Linked DNA regions of Homo sapiens: region 1 is linked to region 2. The links come from fine-mapping of genetic effects on plasma protein levels. A gene starts in region 2. The other region holds a variant in brackets. All regions are shown on one strand. Distances are from middle to middle. Region 1 holds the start of FLYWCH1 (FLYWCH-type zinc finger 1). Region 2 holds the start of PRSS22 (serine protease 22).

What was found. A credible set is the group of variants that fine-mapping cannot tell apart. PIP is the chance, under the fine-mapping model, that this variant and not a neighbour inherited with it causes the effect. The UK Biobank Pharma Proteomics Project read protein levels with antibody pairs (Olink). The fine-mapping took linkage between variants from a reference panel, not from the people measured, so its PIPs are less certain.
Region 1: its variant is the best candidate, but not a certain one, in a credible set for the plasma level of the PRSS22 protein (UK Biobank, PIP 0.80).

Annotation. Positions count from the first base shown.
Region 1 is chr16:2,910,281-2,918,603 of GRCh38, reverse strand. It overlaps FLYWCH1 (FLYWCH-type zinc finger 1), which reads right to left and starts at 6,673. Exons shown (of 10, transcript NM_001308068.2): 1 at 6,450-6,673; 2 at 4,315-4,428. RefSeq lists silencers at 6,040-6,229, 6,203-6,302, 6,333-6,482, 6,503-6,812, 6,863-6,922. The variant T/G (reference allele first, on the strand shown) is at 3,310.
Region 2 is chr16:2,853,373-2,861,695 of GRCh38, reverse strand. PRSS22 (serine protease 22) reads left to right here and starts at 3,526. Exons shown (of 6, transcript NM_022119.4): 1 at 3,526-3,673; 2 at 4,848-4,874; 3 at 5,443-5,614; 4 at 5,845-6,122; 5 at 7,674-7,831. The coding sequence starts at 3,592. RefSeq lists enhancers at 2,340-2,939, 2,940-3,540, 3,541-4,141.

The sequences.
Region 1 (8,323 bases), 57 kb before region 2:
ATGGTCATGTTGGTGCATGCCTGTAATCCCAGCTATTCAGGAGGCTGAGGCAGAAGAGTCACTCGAAACCGGGAGGTGGAGGTTGCAGTGAGCCAAGATCCTGCCATTGCACTCCAGCCTGGGCAACAAGAGCAAAACTCCCTCTCAAAAAAAAAAAAGCCTGGCGCGGTGGCTCACGCCTGTAATCCCAGCACTTTAGAAGGCCAAGGCAGGCGGATCACGAGGTCAGGAGATCGAGACCATCCTGGCTAACACGGTGAAACCCCGTCTCTACTAAAAATACAAAAAATTAGCTGGGCGCGGTGGCGGCCGCCTGTAGTCCCAGCTACTCGGGAGGCTGAGGCAGGAGAATGGTGTGAGCCTGGGAGGCGGAGCTTGCAGTGAGCCGAGATTGCCCCACTGCACTCCAGCCTGGGCGACAGAGCGACACTGTCTCAAAAAAAAAAAAAAAAAAAAGGAATCCAAGGCCAGGCACAGTGGCACATACCTCTAATTCCAGCACTTTGGGAGGCCGAGGTGGGTGGATCACTTGAGGTCAGGAGTTCAAGACAAGCCCGGCCAACATGGCAAAACCCCATCTCTTCCAAAAAATACAAAAATTACCTGGGCATGGTGGCGGGCGCCTGTAATCCCAGCTACTCAGGAGGCTGAGGCAGGGAGAATTGCTTGAACCCAGGAAGTGGAGGTTGCACAGTGAGCCAAGATCGTGCCACTGTACTCCAGCCTGGGCAACAGTGAGACTCCATCTCGAGGGGGAAGAAAAGACTCCAGATTTTGGGGGGTGGGGAGAGGATCGGGGGAGGGGAAGAGGGAGGCCAAAGGAAGAGGGAGGAACAAGAATCTAGATTTTTCACAAATCCTCCTGATACTGATAGACTGTGAACTAGACTTTGACAAACACTAGAATAGATGACCTTGGGAAACAGAAGACTGCAGCTAAGCGACGAACCTAAGCAACACCTGAGGTTTGCTTTGTGCTGGGCACTAAAATACCTGAAGTATTTTATCTACATCATCTCATTTACTCTTTAATGTCATACAGGTTTCCTCATTAATGTCACAGAAAATCATTAACGGCCGGGCATGGTGGCTCACACCTGTAATCCCAGCACTTTGGGAGGCTGAGATGGGCGGATCACCTGAGGTCAGGAGTTCGAAACCAGCCTGACCAACATGGCAAAACCCCGTCTCTACTAAAAATACAAAATTAGCTGGGCGTCGTGGTGGGCGCCTGTAATCCCAGCTACTCGGGAGGCTGAGGCAGGAGAATCGCTTGTACCCGGGAGGTGGAAGTTGCAGTGAGCAGAGATCCCACCATTGCACTCCAGCCTGGGTGACAAGAGCAAAACTCCATCTCAAAAAAAAAAAAAAAATTATTAACAAGCTTACTTTGTATTATTGGGAAAGTCATGGCTTTTTAAAAATTTTTTTTACTTTTTTTTATTTTTGAGACAGAGTTTCGCTCTTTCACCTGGGCTGGAGTGCAGTGGCATGATCTCGGCTCACTGCAACTTCTGCCTTCTGGTTTCAAGCGATTCTCCTGCCTCAGCCTCCCAAGTAGCTGGGATTACAGGTGCGCGCTACCACGCCTGGCTAATTTTTGTTATTTTTTTTTTTTTTTTTACTAGAGATGGGGTTTCACCATGTTGTCCAGGCTAATCTCGAACTCCTGACCTCATGATCCACCCCCCTCGGCCTCCCAAAGAGCTGGGATTACAGGAGTGAGCCACCATGCCTGGCCGATTTCCTCGTTTTTGAAAGTATTAGCAATTTAACAAGTTTCAGGAACCTTAGGGGTATTTTGGGGAACCTCAAGAAGAGAGGAATTTGCCCAAATTTTAAGTACTACAGGTAAAATCTGATGGAGAAAGCATCCTGGACTTGCCTTCTGTGTCTCAGGATATCAAACAACGAATTTTTAAATTTCTTTTTTCTTTTTTTTATTTTTTGTTTTGTTTTGTTTTTTTGAGATGGAGTCTCGCTCTGTCACCCAGGCTGGAGTGCAGTGGTGCGATCTCGGCTCTCTGCAAGCTCTGTCTCCTGGGTTCACGCCATTCTCCGGCCTCAGCCTCCAGAGTAGCTGAGACTACAGGCACCTGCCACCAGGCCTGGATAATTTTTTGTATTTTGTTAGTAGAGACGGGGTTTCACCATGTTAGCCAGGATGGTCTCTATCTCCTGACTTCGTGATCCGCCTGCCTCAGCTTCCCAAAGTGCTGGGATTACAGGCGTGAGCCACCACACCCGGCCTGTATTTTTGTTTTGAGATGGAGTCCCACTCTGTTGCCCAGGCTGGAGTACAGTGGCATGATCTCAGCTCACTGCAACTTCTGCCTCCTAGGTTAATTATCCTGACTCAGCTTCCTGAGTAGCTAGGATTACAGGCACGCACCAACACGCCCAGCTAACTTTTGTTTTTAGTAGAGATGAGGTTTCATCATGTTGGCCAGGCTGGTCTCGAACTTCTGACCTCAAGTGATCAGCCCGTCTTTGCCTCCCAAAATGCTGGGATTACAGGTGTGAGCCACGGCACCTGGCCAAAACAACAGACTTTAAAAAGTCTAAGTTTCCTTATGGAGACTTCCAGGCAGGCAAACTCAGGTAGGCTTATCTGGTGAATCAGTACTATTGCTGCACTACATAATCAGGCCAAATATGATGAAATCAGCCTTATAATCAAAAATATGTTTCCTTGGCCACTGTAGAAGAGGCCAGTTTTGCCTCCATTTGCACATTCATTTCAATATTCCTGATCTAGAATCTTGTAGATTCTTCTTTGGATTCTCTCTTTTTTTTTTTTTTCTCTCGACACAGAGTCTTGCTCTGTCTCCCAGGCTGGGGAGCAGTGGCTAGATCTCAGCTAACTGCAACCTCCGATTCCCAGGCTCAAGCCATTCTGGTGCCTCTGCCTCCCGTGATCCGCCCACCTTGGCCTCTCAAAGTGCTGGGATTACAGGCGTGAACCACTGCGACCAGCCCATGTAATTTTAAAAATTGCTGACTGGAACCTAATGATTTTAGGACCAATGACTAAGCAGTTTCAAAAACAGTGCCCTAGACCAAAACAAAGGAAATACAATTCTTTTATACTCATATAAAGCAAACACATGTTAAAGATTTTACTTACCGTTAGCCAGTAAGGTGGAGCTCAGGAGTTTGAGACCGGCCTGGCCAACATGGTGAAACCCTGTCTCTACTAAAAATACAACAATTAGCTGGGCTTGGTAGCACAGGCCTGTAATCCCAGTTTGCCGCCTGGCCAACACGGTAAAACCCTGTCTCTACTAAAAATACAAAAAAATTAGTCGG[T/G]CGTGGTGCATGCCTGTAATCCCAGCTGCTCAGGAGGCTGAGGCAGAACTCACTGAACCTACCGGGGAGATGGAGGTTGCAGTGAGCCAAGATCACACCAATGCACTCCAGCCTAGGCAACAAAATGAGACTGTCTCAGGAAAAAAAAAAAAAATTTCAGTGCATGTAATAAAAATGAGTATATTTTAATACATTTATATTATTTAATAAATTCAATAAATATCTCATTTAATAAAAATTAGAAACTTTTGTTACTCTAGTTTAAGTGCTTTTTTTTTTTACAGTAGATACCCATTGTTTTACAGTAGATACAGGGGCCCTAATGTGTTTCTTTTGTAATGTTCAATCTTCATTCAGTACAAATTTCTTTTTTTTTTTTTTTTTTTGAGACAGAGTCTCACTCTGTCGCCCAGGCTGGAGTGCAGTGGCTCGATCCTGTCTCACTGCAACCTCCGCTGAATCCTTGAACCAGGTTCAAGCGATTCTGCTCCTCAGGCTCCTGAGTAGCTGGGATTACAGGTGTGCGCCACCACGCCCAGCTAAATTTTTTGTATTTTTAGTATAGACAGGGTTTCACCATGTTAGCCAGGCTGGTCTCAAACTCCTGACCTCTGGTGATCTGCCCACCTCAGCCTCCCAAAGTGCTGGGATTACAGACGTGAACCACCATGCCTGGCTGCACTCAGTACAGATTTCTTAAGTGAATGGAGCACAGGCCGGCAGATTTGCATGGAAAGCTCCAAAGTCTCAGTTCATGGTGCATCACTCTCCTGTCCTCTCTCCCCTTCTCCCAGAATTGAGGGTGCGGAGCAATTTGAGTGCAATGCCAGATGGCCTACTGGGACGCTGCGGTCCTGCTGGTGACCACAAGGGCTCAGCGTAGACCTAAGGGTCACATGTTAGCAACTGTCAGGTGTCTCTCAGACACCAAGGGGTCCAAACTCTAATCAGTAAGGCTCGAAAACCAGGCGGCTCTGTCGGCAGCTGATGGAGCCACAGAATTACCTTCACACGTGAGTGAGAAGCGTCACCATCATCCCCCACACCTGGGTCACGGCGCTGGCTTGCTGGGCAGGAGCCCCGGGGGCAAATCCCGTAACTTCTCTGGGCTGGTTTCACCTGTGAAGAAAGTAAAGTGGCAAATGAAATACTGCAGGTGAAATTATTCCATGAACTGTCGACCATTAGACAAGAACAAGGTGTTCAGCATCCAGGTGCAGTAGGGGTCCTGAGTGATAGGAGCGGGAGGAGGGAAGGCCCTCTGTTTAAAAAGCTTCTGAATGGGCCGGTGGCACGGTGGCTCACACCTGTCATCTCAGCAGTTTGGGAGGCTCAGGTGAGAGAATTGTTTGAGCCCAGGAGTTCGAGACCAGCCTAGGCAACATAGTGAGACCTGCCCCTCGCCCCCACCATTTCTACTAAAAAAATTTTTTTTTAAAGCTCCTGGATGACTCCAGTGTCTACCCACCTCCCACCTACCCGCAACTGAACCATGAGCGTTGGAGGTGCACTTGCCTCAGACATGAACCACTATGGTGACATCACAGGCTCAGTGGGTGCACACAGACATTCCTCCTGAAGAGGTTGAAGGTGGCAGAGATGCCCAGATAATTAAAATTTACTCTAAAAATGAACTTCACAATCTCAGCACCGTTGGCATTTTGGGCCGGATGATTCTGCTGTGGGAGGCTGTCCTGTTCAGCGTGGGGTGTTCAGCAGCAACCCCGGTCTCTACCTGCCAGATCCCACTGTCATGCCCTACCACACGTTGTGACCACCAACACTGCAGAACGTTCCCTGGGGTGCAGAATTGCCCAAGAGCCACAGCTCCAAAGCAACTTAGAAATTAGAGCGCACAGAAAGGGAGAGCTTGGCCAATGAGACCCCCCCAGCCCGGTATTCCCCAGTCACCCTCCATCATAATATAAGTTTATTTACTCCTTCCCACAGCCTAATGCATCCTCAAATCTCTCTCCCTCTATGCCTGATATACCCATCTTCCCTCTCCTTCCCACTCCCACCAACTCAGGACATGATCCCTTACCACGACCTCTTTAGCCCAAGCCAAAGCCTCTGAACGATCTTGCCAGCTTTGGCAAGCAGCCACTCCAATTCTCCACATAGGGTGCTGACAGGTCACTCTTCCTAAAGCTTAACTTTCAGCATGTCTCTCCCCAATTAAATCATCTCCATCTCCAGCCTTAGTGCATCATCAGCTGGGCGTCATAAACACTCCGCAATCTAGCCCCAACCTCAGCCTTGTTCCTTCCACACGTCCCGCCAGTAGCACTTGGGAAAGGAACAAGAGAAACATGATATAATCACACGAGAAAATCTAGATCAAGCCCTGGAAATCATATTGGCCCTTGGAAAGCAGAAATATGCAAATAAAAATAAGCCATTTCGTTGGAATTGGAGTTTGCACATGATTATCTGACTATGGGAGTTCAGCTTCCAGTACAAGGAATAAAGGAACAACAGGCAGGGTTTAGAGCGAGGGTTTCAACTACGTCAGACCCGTTATGTGCAGGCTCCATGGGTTAGCAGCAGCCTTTTGGAACGGGGTGGAAGAGAATGGAACGGAATTTAATCCGAACAGATCCAGCTGCGTCATGTGAGCTTAAACAAGCGTCTCCCTTTAAACTTGTGCTTCAGTCATCCAGACCCACAGGCACAGAGTACACGCGTAAAAGGCATTTCTCAGTGTCGGCTGTGGGTCAACAAAGTTCGAAAGCCGTCACCGGAGATCTATAGGGTCAGAAGCGGGAGCGGGGTGCGTCCCGACCCGCAAAAGTGCAAGGTCACTGGGACCGCCCGAGCTGCAACCGTGGGACGGGGCTGATGCTGCGGGTCCAGGAAGGCAGCGCTGGGCGGGGCAGACACCGCCAGGAAACGGCGGACGAGTGCGGGGATCCTTGATGTGGGGGTGTCGGGCTTAGGCCAGGGGACGGGGGGGTGGGGATGGAGGGGCGAGGAGCAAGGAGGGAATCGCGGGAGACCCCACAGGAGGCGGCCTGAGCGCCGGGACGCAGACCCCTCCCCAGCACCCGCAACCCTCGGGACCCCCGGGAGAGCCGGGCTGCGGGCGCGTCCACGCCGGGGACGCGGGACATTCCCCGCCCGCAGGGGCCTGTCCTCACCGACGGCAGCGGGGCCCTCCCTCTCCCGCGACAGCGCCGCGGCGGATCCTTCAGCCTCTGCCGCTGCAGCAGCGAGCGTCGACCCCGCGACCCAGGCCGCCGCCGCCACCCCGACCCGGGCACCAGCTCCCAGCCCCGACCTGCCCCTCGGGAGCGAGCCCCGTGACCGCGCGCGCGACCCCGCCGGGGAGCCGGCCTTGCGGAACGCTCAGGCGCGCTACTTCAGAGCATGCGCAGCAAGACCGCGCGGCCCGTTCCTTAGGTAAACCGCTGCTCCGGGTCTTCCCTGCGCGGCGCCGAGCCGCAGGCCTGGCCTGTCAGCGCATGGGGGCGGGGACGTAACTCACGGAAAAGGCGGGGCCATCCCGAGATTGGACGGCGGCGTCCAGGGGCGGAGCTAGGATGGGGGAGCTGAACAGGACGCTCTTGGCGTAAAGGGGCTGGGGTAGGGGGCGCTTAATTGAGACCCCAGGACGGTCCCCAGTATCTGAGGCTGCCCGCAGGAAACGGAGCGTTTGCTGAGATGCACTCTTGGGCCTGTCAGTTTCCTGACCCCGTGGGAAGGCGATTCTCATGCATCTCATTGACGCCCCCAGTGACCCTACCCCAGAGCGGAACCAGTGTGAGATTCAAATAAACAGCGATAGCAACGGATTATAACCTTGACTACGATATGAGTCCAAACTGAAGGAAATAAGTCAACGGGGGAGAAGGGACAGTTGTTTCTTACATCAGAAAGCCAACAACGACAAAAAAATACCTGGGCCGGGCGCGGTGGCTCACGCCTGTAATCCCAGCACTTTGGGAGGCCGAGGCGGGTGGATCACCTGAGGTCAGGAGTTCGAGAACAGCGTGGCCAACATGGTGAAACCCCGTTTCTACTAAAAATACGAACATTAGTCGGGCGTGGTACTGGGCGCCTGTAATCCCAGCTACTCGGGAGGCTGAGGCAGGAGAATAACTTGAACCCGGGAGGCGGAGGTTGCAGTGAGCCGAGACGGCGCCACTGCACTCCAGCCTGGGCGACAGAGTGAGACTGTGTCTAAAAAAAAAAAAGCAGAAATATTACATAGTATTACAAAGTCTGCATGACGTGTGATGTAACACATTGAATGTAGAAGCAGGTATGAGAGCCAGTAGTCTTCTTTTAAGCCCGCAACAAAGATATTTGCAAAAATGTATAACTATGTCACTCGTCTCACTAAATTTCTTTGGGAAAATATTGTACTTTTTCATAAAACTATGTTAACACAATCAGCTTACTATTTTTTGGTAAGATCTTTATTGAAATATAATTCACATACCATGCATTTCTCCCATTTAAAGTGTACAATTAAATGATATGTAGTATAGTCAGAGAGTTGTGCAAACAGCACCATAGTCAGTTTTAAAACCTTTCATCACTCCAAGAAGAAACCTTTAGCCACCACCCTCCAATTTGCTAATCACCCCAGCCCTAAGTAATATGATCTATTTTCTGTCTTTATAGATTTGCGTATTCTGCATATTTCATATAAATGAAATCATGCAACAAATATGTGGTCTCTTGTGACTGACTTCTTTCGCCTAGCCTTAGCATAGCACTTTCAAAGTTCATCCATGTTGGCCGGGTACAGTGACTCTTGCTTGTAATCCCAGCACTTTGGGAGGCTGAGACAGGAGCATCGTTTGAGCCCAGGAGTTTGAGATCAGCCTAGGCAACATAGTGAGACTCTTTCTCTACAGAAAAAAAGAAAAGAGGAACAAGAGAAAATTAGCTGGATGTGGTGATGCGCTGTAGTCCCAGCTACTCAGGAGGCTGAGGTGGAAGGATCACTTGAGCTTGGGAGCTGGAGGCTGCAGTGAGCTGCGCTCATGCCACTGCACTCCAGGCT
Region 2 (8,323 bases):
CTGTGTATATATTCACCACATTTTCTTTATCCATCATCTGTTGATGGACACTTAGGTTGATTTCATGGCTTTGCTGTTGTGAACAGTGTTGCTGCGATGAACACACGAGTGCAGGTGTCTCTTTGATTAAATGACTTCTTTTCCTTTGGGTGGATGCCCAGTGGTGGGATTGCTGGTTGAATGGTAGTTCTAGTTTTAGTTCTTTGAGAAATCTCTATCCTGTTTTCCATAGAGCTAAATGATGTACTTATTGTTTACAATTCTCTGTTTCATCCGATGTCCATGGCTTTTGGTTTGCTCATTGCTGTATCTTCAGCACTTCGGACAGCGCCGGCATACAGGCGGTGCTCTGCAAATGCTTGTTGATTGAGTTAACAAGGACAAGGAGAGTGTCTTATTTCCCTTGACTACTCCAGCACATGGTGGGTGGGCTCCATAGCCTTTGGTGGGACAATGAATGGATAGCCCTGTTCAAAGTAGCTCCCCAGACTCCTGGGCCCACATCTGAGATGCCACCATTGGCGAGTCACTTCTTTTGCCAGTGGCAGCTGCTGTTAACATGGAAATGCCCCAGTGGCCCTGTCAGTCATCACCACTCCAGTGCACATGGATCAGAGGCCCTGAGGCCAGGCTGGCAGGGAGTGGGGGTGTGGGTGGCAGGGGCACACAGCTCATCCAGAGCTTGCACAGGCAGGGATGCTGGCCAGCATGTGGGTCTAGCATTGGCAGGCGCTCAATAAATATTTTGTTGAGTGAATGTTGAATCATGCCAGGGTCTCCACCCCGTGGCCTTTCAGAGACTCCACCCTCTATACCCTGGGAATTGAGGAACTGCTGTCTGGGGCCCTTCCCCAGGACTTGTGCCAGGAAATCTTCACCCAGCTCCTCAGGGCTTCCCCCTGCTCCTACCAGGTCCTTCTCCTCGGGGCTCTCTTCCTGGCCACCCTGTCTCAGGGATAGCGGCATCTTGGGCAGGGCCCATGGCTACCCTTGGGTATCCAGGGCAGTGAGCTGGCTCTTCAGAAAGGCAGAAAAGCTGGAATGGAGAGGAAACCTGGGCGGGAGGCAGAGAGGGAGGCTGGAGTGGTCGGTCCCCAGCCACTTGCAGACTTGCTTCTTCCACACTCATTTATACATTCAACAAACACTCGCTGAGCCCCAGGGTGCAGCAGGCACTGAATATGATCCTGGGGGTCCACAGGGAGCCCCCCTGCCCACACTGTTTCCCCAGCACCCAGCTTCACAGTGGCCCTCTAGGGTCCAAGCCACCGCCTGGTCCCATGGTTCTGTGCCCACCTCCCGGACACCTCCCTGTCATCCGTCATCTGCCTCCCACCCCTAGGAGGTCATGTGCTTCCTGAGCACAGGACCTGCGTCTTATTCATCACATGTGTCCTGGTGCCCACCAGGGCCTGACATACAGCAGGTACTCAATATATGTTTGCTGGGTGAGCTGGAGAGGCCACCCACCTTATTCCAGAAGGCAGTGGGGTGGGGCGCAGGAGGGCCCTGGACGCCCTGGGTGCAGAGCTGAGCGGGGGACAGTGAGTAGGGTTGGGGGAGCCCAGCAGAAATTTCTGCTGCAGTGCTGCTGCTGCTCAGAGACACTGCCCCTCCTTGGCCACTCTGCGTGGCCTTTTCCTGCAGTTCCCCCAAACCCCCTCTGAGTCCTGGGACAGAGAATAATGCATCCTCTGGGGCTCCCCAGGGCCCTGCTGTTTGACTTGTCTCTCGGTGGAGCAGGGCATGGCCTCTCTGCCACGAGAAAGTGCCAGTCGTCCTGCTGCCACCCTAACCCTTAACAGACTGAGGAGGTGGGCAGCACAGAGTCCACCCCCAGGGCAAAACCCGTCCTGCTCAGAGCCATGGAGTCCCTGAAGCAGCCATGGTGGTCTGCTAAGCCCCTGACCCACGCCACCCTGACTCTGCAGGGAGCAAGTTAGGGCTCACCCCAGGCAGGGTGAGGCACCTCCTCCAGGCTCCCGAAGCCTCCATGAGGGCAGTCCCAGCAGCCACCCCCAGTGTTGGGGTGCAGGTCCGGCTCCACCACTCACCCAGCAATCTCGGGCAAGTCACTTAACCGCCCTAAGCTGCCTCAGTTTCCTTATCTGCAGAGTGGGAATAATAAAGACATTTGAGGATTAGGAGGCAATGCATGGCACTCCTAAATGTTTGCTCTATTATATAAATACTATATTTATATTTGTATAAATATATTTATTACATACATATTCACTACTATGGTTTTTTTTTTTTTTTTTTGAAACAGAGTCTCGCTCTGTCGCCCAGGCTGGAGTGCAGTGGCGTGATCTCAGCTCACTGCAACCTCCGCCTCCCAGGTTCAAGCGATTCTCCTGCCTCAGCCTCCCAAGTAGATGGGACTAAGGGCGCCTGCCACCATGCCTGGCTAATTTTTTTTTTTTTGTATTTTTAGTAGAGACGGGGTTTTACTATGTTGGCCAGACTGGTATTGAACTCCTGACCTCATGATCTGTCCGTCTTGGCCTCCCAAAGTGCTGGGATTACAGGAATAAGCCACCCCACCCAGACACTATGGTTGTTTTTAATTCACCCCCGGCGGTAGCAAGGGCCCTGCTGGAGGCTTGTTGATCGAATGAGTGAAGGGGCGCAGGCTCCTGCCTCTTTGTAGAGGAGGAAGCCTGCCCTGCTTGGGTGGGAGTGTCCCAAGTGTGGGGCGCTGCAGGGCACTGAGTCAGGGAAGGTCTCACAGGATTCAGCCCCGGGTTGCCACTGTGGCAGCCGCTGGGGGGAAGCACCGAGAATCCACTCCCAGCCCAGGACCCGGCCCCCCACAGCCCAGCCCAGCAGCTCTTTGAATCCTGGGAGTCCCAGCCCTTCCCGGGGCCCCTCTTCTCTCAACCCCCCTGCTTGGCCGAGCCCTGGTGCCCATGGGCTCCTCCCCTTCCCAGGAGTCCAGGTGAGGTGAGTTGTCAGGTGTCTGAACCGCAGGGCAGAGCCCCGCCTCCAGGAACGACAGGAGGGCGGCCACCAGGAGGCCACCAAGGTCGCCACTCACCTGATTCACAGCTTTCGGGAAGTGGGTTAACGGGATTCCCAAGCCCGGGTTGCGCCAGGTCTCTGGGCTGAGTCACAGGGGCCTGGGGCCCTGCAGGTGGGAGCCGTTACTGAGCTTTGGGCACCCCCTTGATCCCTAAGGCCCTAGGACCACCCCCAACACCCAGTACCCCAGACTTCAGCCTCTCCAAACCCAGGCCCTCCCCAGCCCGGAACCCCTTCCTTTCAGTGCCCTGGCACCTTTCTCTGCCCCTGGACAATTAATGTCAGGGACCTCTGGGCCCAAGCCCCCTCCCCTGCCCTTCCAGAGGCCACATCCTGGGGTCTCAGCTAGAGCCCCCCCAGAGCCCTGTAGCGGCTGGCTTCCTCCCCGCAGCCCCGCCCTCTGCCCAGGACCCACAGCCGGGGTGGCCGCGGGAGCCACCTGGGGACTGGTCTGACGGCATTCCGCCTCCCAGGATAAAACCTGGGGCGACCTGCAGGGAACCTACACACCCTGACCCGCATCGCCCTGGGTCTCTCGAGCCTGCTGCCTGCTCCCCCGCCCCACCAGCCATGGTGGTTTCTGGAGCGCCCCCAGCCCTGGGTGGGGGCTGTCTCGGCACCTTCACCTCCCTGCTGCTGCTGGCGTCGACAGGTACGTCCGGAGGCTGCTCCTCCCTCCTCCCTCTCACCTCCACCCTCCTTCCCTCCTTCCCTCCCTCCCTCTCTCCCTCCTGGCCTTGCCTCTCTCATCTCCTTTCCGCTTCTGCTCTGTTTATCTCTTGCTCCTTAACTGCTCTGTGCCTCGGTTTCTTCTACGGCTGTGAGGATGAAACAGAAAACGCAGCAAGTACGCAGCGCGCCTCGGTCTCCAGTTACCGTCGGCGTCGCCATCGCCTGCTCCCTCTCGCCTCCGTGTTCTCCCATCTCCTCGTCCTCCGCTGCTTGCCTCTGGGGAAGCACCGTTTTGTGTTGTTCCTGCCGCAGGAGGTCAGGGGAGGGCACACCAGCGGCAGCAGCGTCCAGAGCCGAGGGGCTCAGGTCTGTGCCTCCCTCGAGGAGCCGGTCCTGGTCCCCGGAAGGCAGGCTGGACGGGAAGCTGCGGGAGGGCAGGGTCACAGCTGTGCAGCCAGGGCCTGGCCAGGCCCCAGGAAATGCCCCGCCGGTAGGGGCCCTGGGGTTGAGAGACTTGAGAGTCTCCCTGGGCACTGGAGGGCTAGAGGTTCCTCACCACCAGGTACTCAAGGGGACCCCCTCCTCACTGGGCGCTGGGACGCCTGCTCACTGGGCGCTGGGACCCCTCCTCACTGGGCGCTGGGACCCCCTCCTCACTGAGCGCTGGGACCCCCTCGTCACTGGGCGCTGGGGACCCCTCCTCACTGGGCGCTGGGGAGCCCTCCTCACTGGGCGCTGGGGACCCCTCCTCACTGGGCGCTGGGGAACCCTCCTCACTAGGCGCTGGGGAGCCCTCCTCACTGGGCGCTGGGGACCCCTCCTCACTGGGTGCTGGGACCCCTTCCCACTGGGCACTGGACCCCTTCTCACTGGGTGCTGGGGGCTTCTCGCTGGGCGCTGAGGGACCCTCCTCACTGGGTACTGGGACCCCTCCTCACTGGGCGCTGAGGGACCCTCCTCAGGGGGTGCTGGGACCCCTCCTCACTGGGCGCTGAGGGACCCTCCTCACTGGGTGCTGGGACCTCCACCTCACTGGGCACTGGGATCCCTTCTTACTGGGTGTTGGGGGCCTTCCTCACTGGGCGTTGAGGGCCCCTCACCACTGTGTCCTGGGGCCCCTCACCGGCCTAACCGTTTCCTTCTCTTGCCCTCAGCCATCCTCAATGCGGCCAGGATACCTGGTGAGTGGAGCTGGCAGCTCTGACGGGAGGGAGAAGGGAGGAGGCCCACGCGCAGGCAGTGTCTATGTGTCCGTCCCCTGGGCACAGGTCAGAAAGGGGCTGGGGTGAGAGGGGGAAAGAGCTAGAGGGGAAGGGAGGCAGGAAGGAGACACGGATGCAAGGAGAAAGGCTTGAGAGATGCCAGGGCCAGAGGAGAGAGAGAGCCAGGAAGGTGAACAGAGTGGAAAGCAGGGTAAGGAAAGAGGGGGAGGGAGAGACCAGGTGCAGCTGACAAGGAGTGAGTGGAAAGGCCAGGGCCAGGTGAGGACCAGCAGAGAGTGAGGATGGAGGGAGGGATGGGACGGGGAGGTGGGCGGAGCTTGGGGTATGGGTGGAGCTTAGGATGTGGGTGGAGCTTGGGGTGTGGGTGGAGCTTGGAGTGCAAGTGAAACTTGGGATGTGGGTAGAGCTTGGGGACATGAACGGAGCTTGGGCTGTGGGCAAAGCTTGGGGTGCAGGCCTAGGGATTGGGATTCCGGGGGTGGGTTGTAGGAAGTTGGAGATAACAAAACTTGACCGTACCCTCCAGTTCCCCCAGCCTGTGGGAAGCCCCAGCAGCTGAACCGGGTTGTGGGCGGCGAGGACAGCACTGACAGCGAGTGGCCCTGGATCGTGAGCATCCAGAAGAATGGGACCCACCACTGCGCAGGTTCTCTGCTCACCAGCCGCTGGGTGATCACTGCTGCCCACTGTTTCAAGGAGTATGTACAGCCGGCCTGGGGCACTTGATCTTCTAAGGCCCTGGGCTTTGTGCCCCAGGCCCTGGGCTCCCTTTACAGGCTCTGCTTCCGGGCCTCTGTTCAATCTTGGTGCCCCTCGATTCTACCTAGAAGCCTCTCCTGCCTTCAGGGGCCTTCACACCCATGCTGTTCCCCCAGGTACCTCCTCCCAGACCAGGCCTGGCTGATCCTCCCCTTCCCTTTCCTTCCAGCAACCTGAACAAACCATACCTGTTCTCTGTGCTGCTGGGGGCCTGGCAGCTGGGGAACCCTGGCTCTCGGTCCCAGAAGGTGGGTGTTGCCTGGGTGGAGCCCCACCCTGTGTATTCCTGGAAGGAAGGTGCCTGTGCAGACATTGCCCTGGTGCGTCTCGAGCGCTCCATACAGTTCTCAGAGCGGGTCCTGCCCATCTGCCTACCTGATGCCTCTATCCACCTCCCTCCAAACACCCACTGCTGGATCTCAGGCTGGGGGAGCATCCAAGATGGAGGTGCGGCTTCTTCCTCTCCAAGGTGGTTGGGGGCAGATGGGGACAGAGGATGGCAGACACTCAGGGACACAGACACCATGAGCAACAAAGGGTGGAGGCCAGAGGCACAGCATGACAGAGGTGGAAGGAAAGATGGGCTGCAATCCAGAAGAAACCTTGGTGGGCAATTTCAGGCCATTTCTCTTTTCTTTTCTTTCTTCTTCTTCTTTTTTTTTTTTTTTTTTTTGAGACAGGGTGTTACTCTGTCACCCAGGCTGGAGTGCAGTGGTGTGATCCTAACTCACTGCAGCCTTTGCCTCCCAGGCTCAAGTGATCCTCCCACCTCAGCCTCCCAGGTAGCTGGAACTACAGGTGTGTGCTACCACACCTGGCTAATTTTTGTATTTTTTGTAGAGACAGGGTTTTTCTGTGTTGGCTGGGCTGGTCTTGAACTGTTGGGCTCAAGCAATCCACCAGCCTCAGCCTCCCAAAGTGCCGGGATTACAGGTGTGAGCCACTGTGCCTGGCCTCATTTCTACTTCAAAAGTATCTGGCTATGTTTTGAGGCAACAGCCAGACCCGTGAAGCTATTCAATTCATCAATACAGGAATGGCTGAAAGGGGGTGTGTGTGGGACTAAGCTGAATACAGGGTGAATATAAAGAGGCCTGATTCCAGAGTGGGAACAGGCACCCCCTGGTGGTAGCATGCCACAATTGCGGGCAAAATTCTCGGGAGAAAATGCAGCCACCTTAATTGTAAAATATAATTTTCAAACCACCACTGGAGGTTTGGAAAACATCATCTCAAAACTCAAACTAGATTACATAAAGCAAGAAGCAGGGAAGCAGCAAGAGAAAGGTAGATGACAGATCGACAGGCAGATGGATGATAGAGACTGGGCCAAGGAAAAGAAACATACAGGCAGAAATGAGGATACAATGAAGACCTGGAAGAAAGAGTTTGAAAGAGAGAGCTAGAGACTAAGTAATAACAAAGTGTAAGACAGATGAAAATTTAACCAGATTCCAGAATAATTAAGAGAAATGACACTAGCTCAGGTGTGTGGGGATCCCAGTAACTCTGAGGTTGCAACCTCTCCATGATCTCTGTAGGGGCTTCTTCAAGAGCTAGAATCGCGGACTTTCAGTCCACAATCTGCAGACCACAGTCTGTAGACCAGCTCCAGGCAAGGCGTGGGGATCCCTCAGGTCCTGGTAATTTTCAACATCGAGTGGACATTTATTGAACACTTCTTCTATAGCAGTCCCAGTGCTGGATGAAGTAATGCAGTATCTGAGACAGGAAGGGCTCTAACCATCTGTGGATATAAGAAAATTTATTAAAGAGGTAGGGTCTTAGGTTTCACATTCATGTTCTAATTCAGCAGGGCCAGAGGTGGAGACCTGGAATTTCAATTTTCTGAAGGCATCTTGGGAGAGACTGGTAGAGCTAATCTGTTAGCCTTTGAGAACCGCTGCTGAGAGGAATGGTGTTGGGGGGGAATAGTCCTTTGAGGAGGCAACGAGGAGGGGAGACCCCCAAACCTGATTCTGTCCTCTTTCCTCCCAGTTCCCTTGCCCCACCCTCAGACCCTGCAGAAGCTGAAGGTTCCTATCATCGACTCGGAAGTCTGCAGCCATCTGTACTGGCGGGGAGCAGGACAGGGACCCATCACTGAGGACATGCTGTGTGCCGGCTACTTGGAGGGGGAGCGGGATGCTTGTCTGGTGAGCTCCCTCGAGCCCCCCACCCCTGGCCAGGAGGGCCTCGGGAAGGAGCCAGCGTCAGTCCTGTCCCCACTGAGCCCCACAACCTCTCCCTGGCCTCCTCCCCAGAACTGGCTGTGCCTGACAGTCCCGGGTCCCCATAGAACCAGCCTCAGCCTGGCTCAGCCACTCACTTATTTGTTCAGACATTAAACTGGGCATCCCAGCTGCACCACCTCGCCCTCCGCGAGCTTTCATTTCCTTCAGGGGGCTTCCCACGCCTCAGTGCCCAGAGCCAGCTGTAGCTCAGGGGCTGTCTGGAAGACGGTCAGATGGTGCAGCGGCAGCACCCGCGCCTGGACGTCTTAAGGCCTGGCTGCAGCTCCTACTCTGCCGCCGGGGACTTCTCACCTGGGTGGAGCTCAGGTCCTGTCTCCTCCAGGAAGGAGAAACGGGCTCCCGGGAAGGGGCTCATCTGCCCCCTGACAGGGCACGGGCCCTGGATTCTGCCAC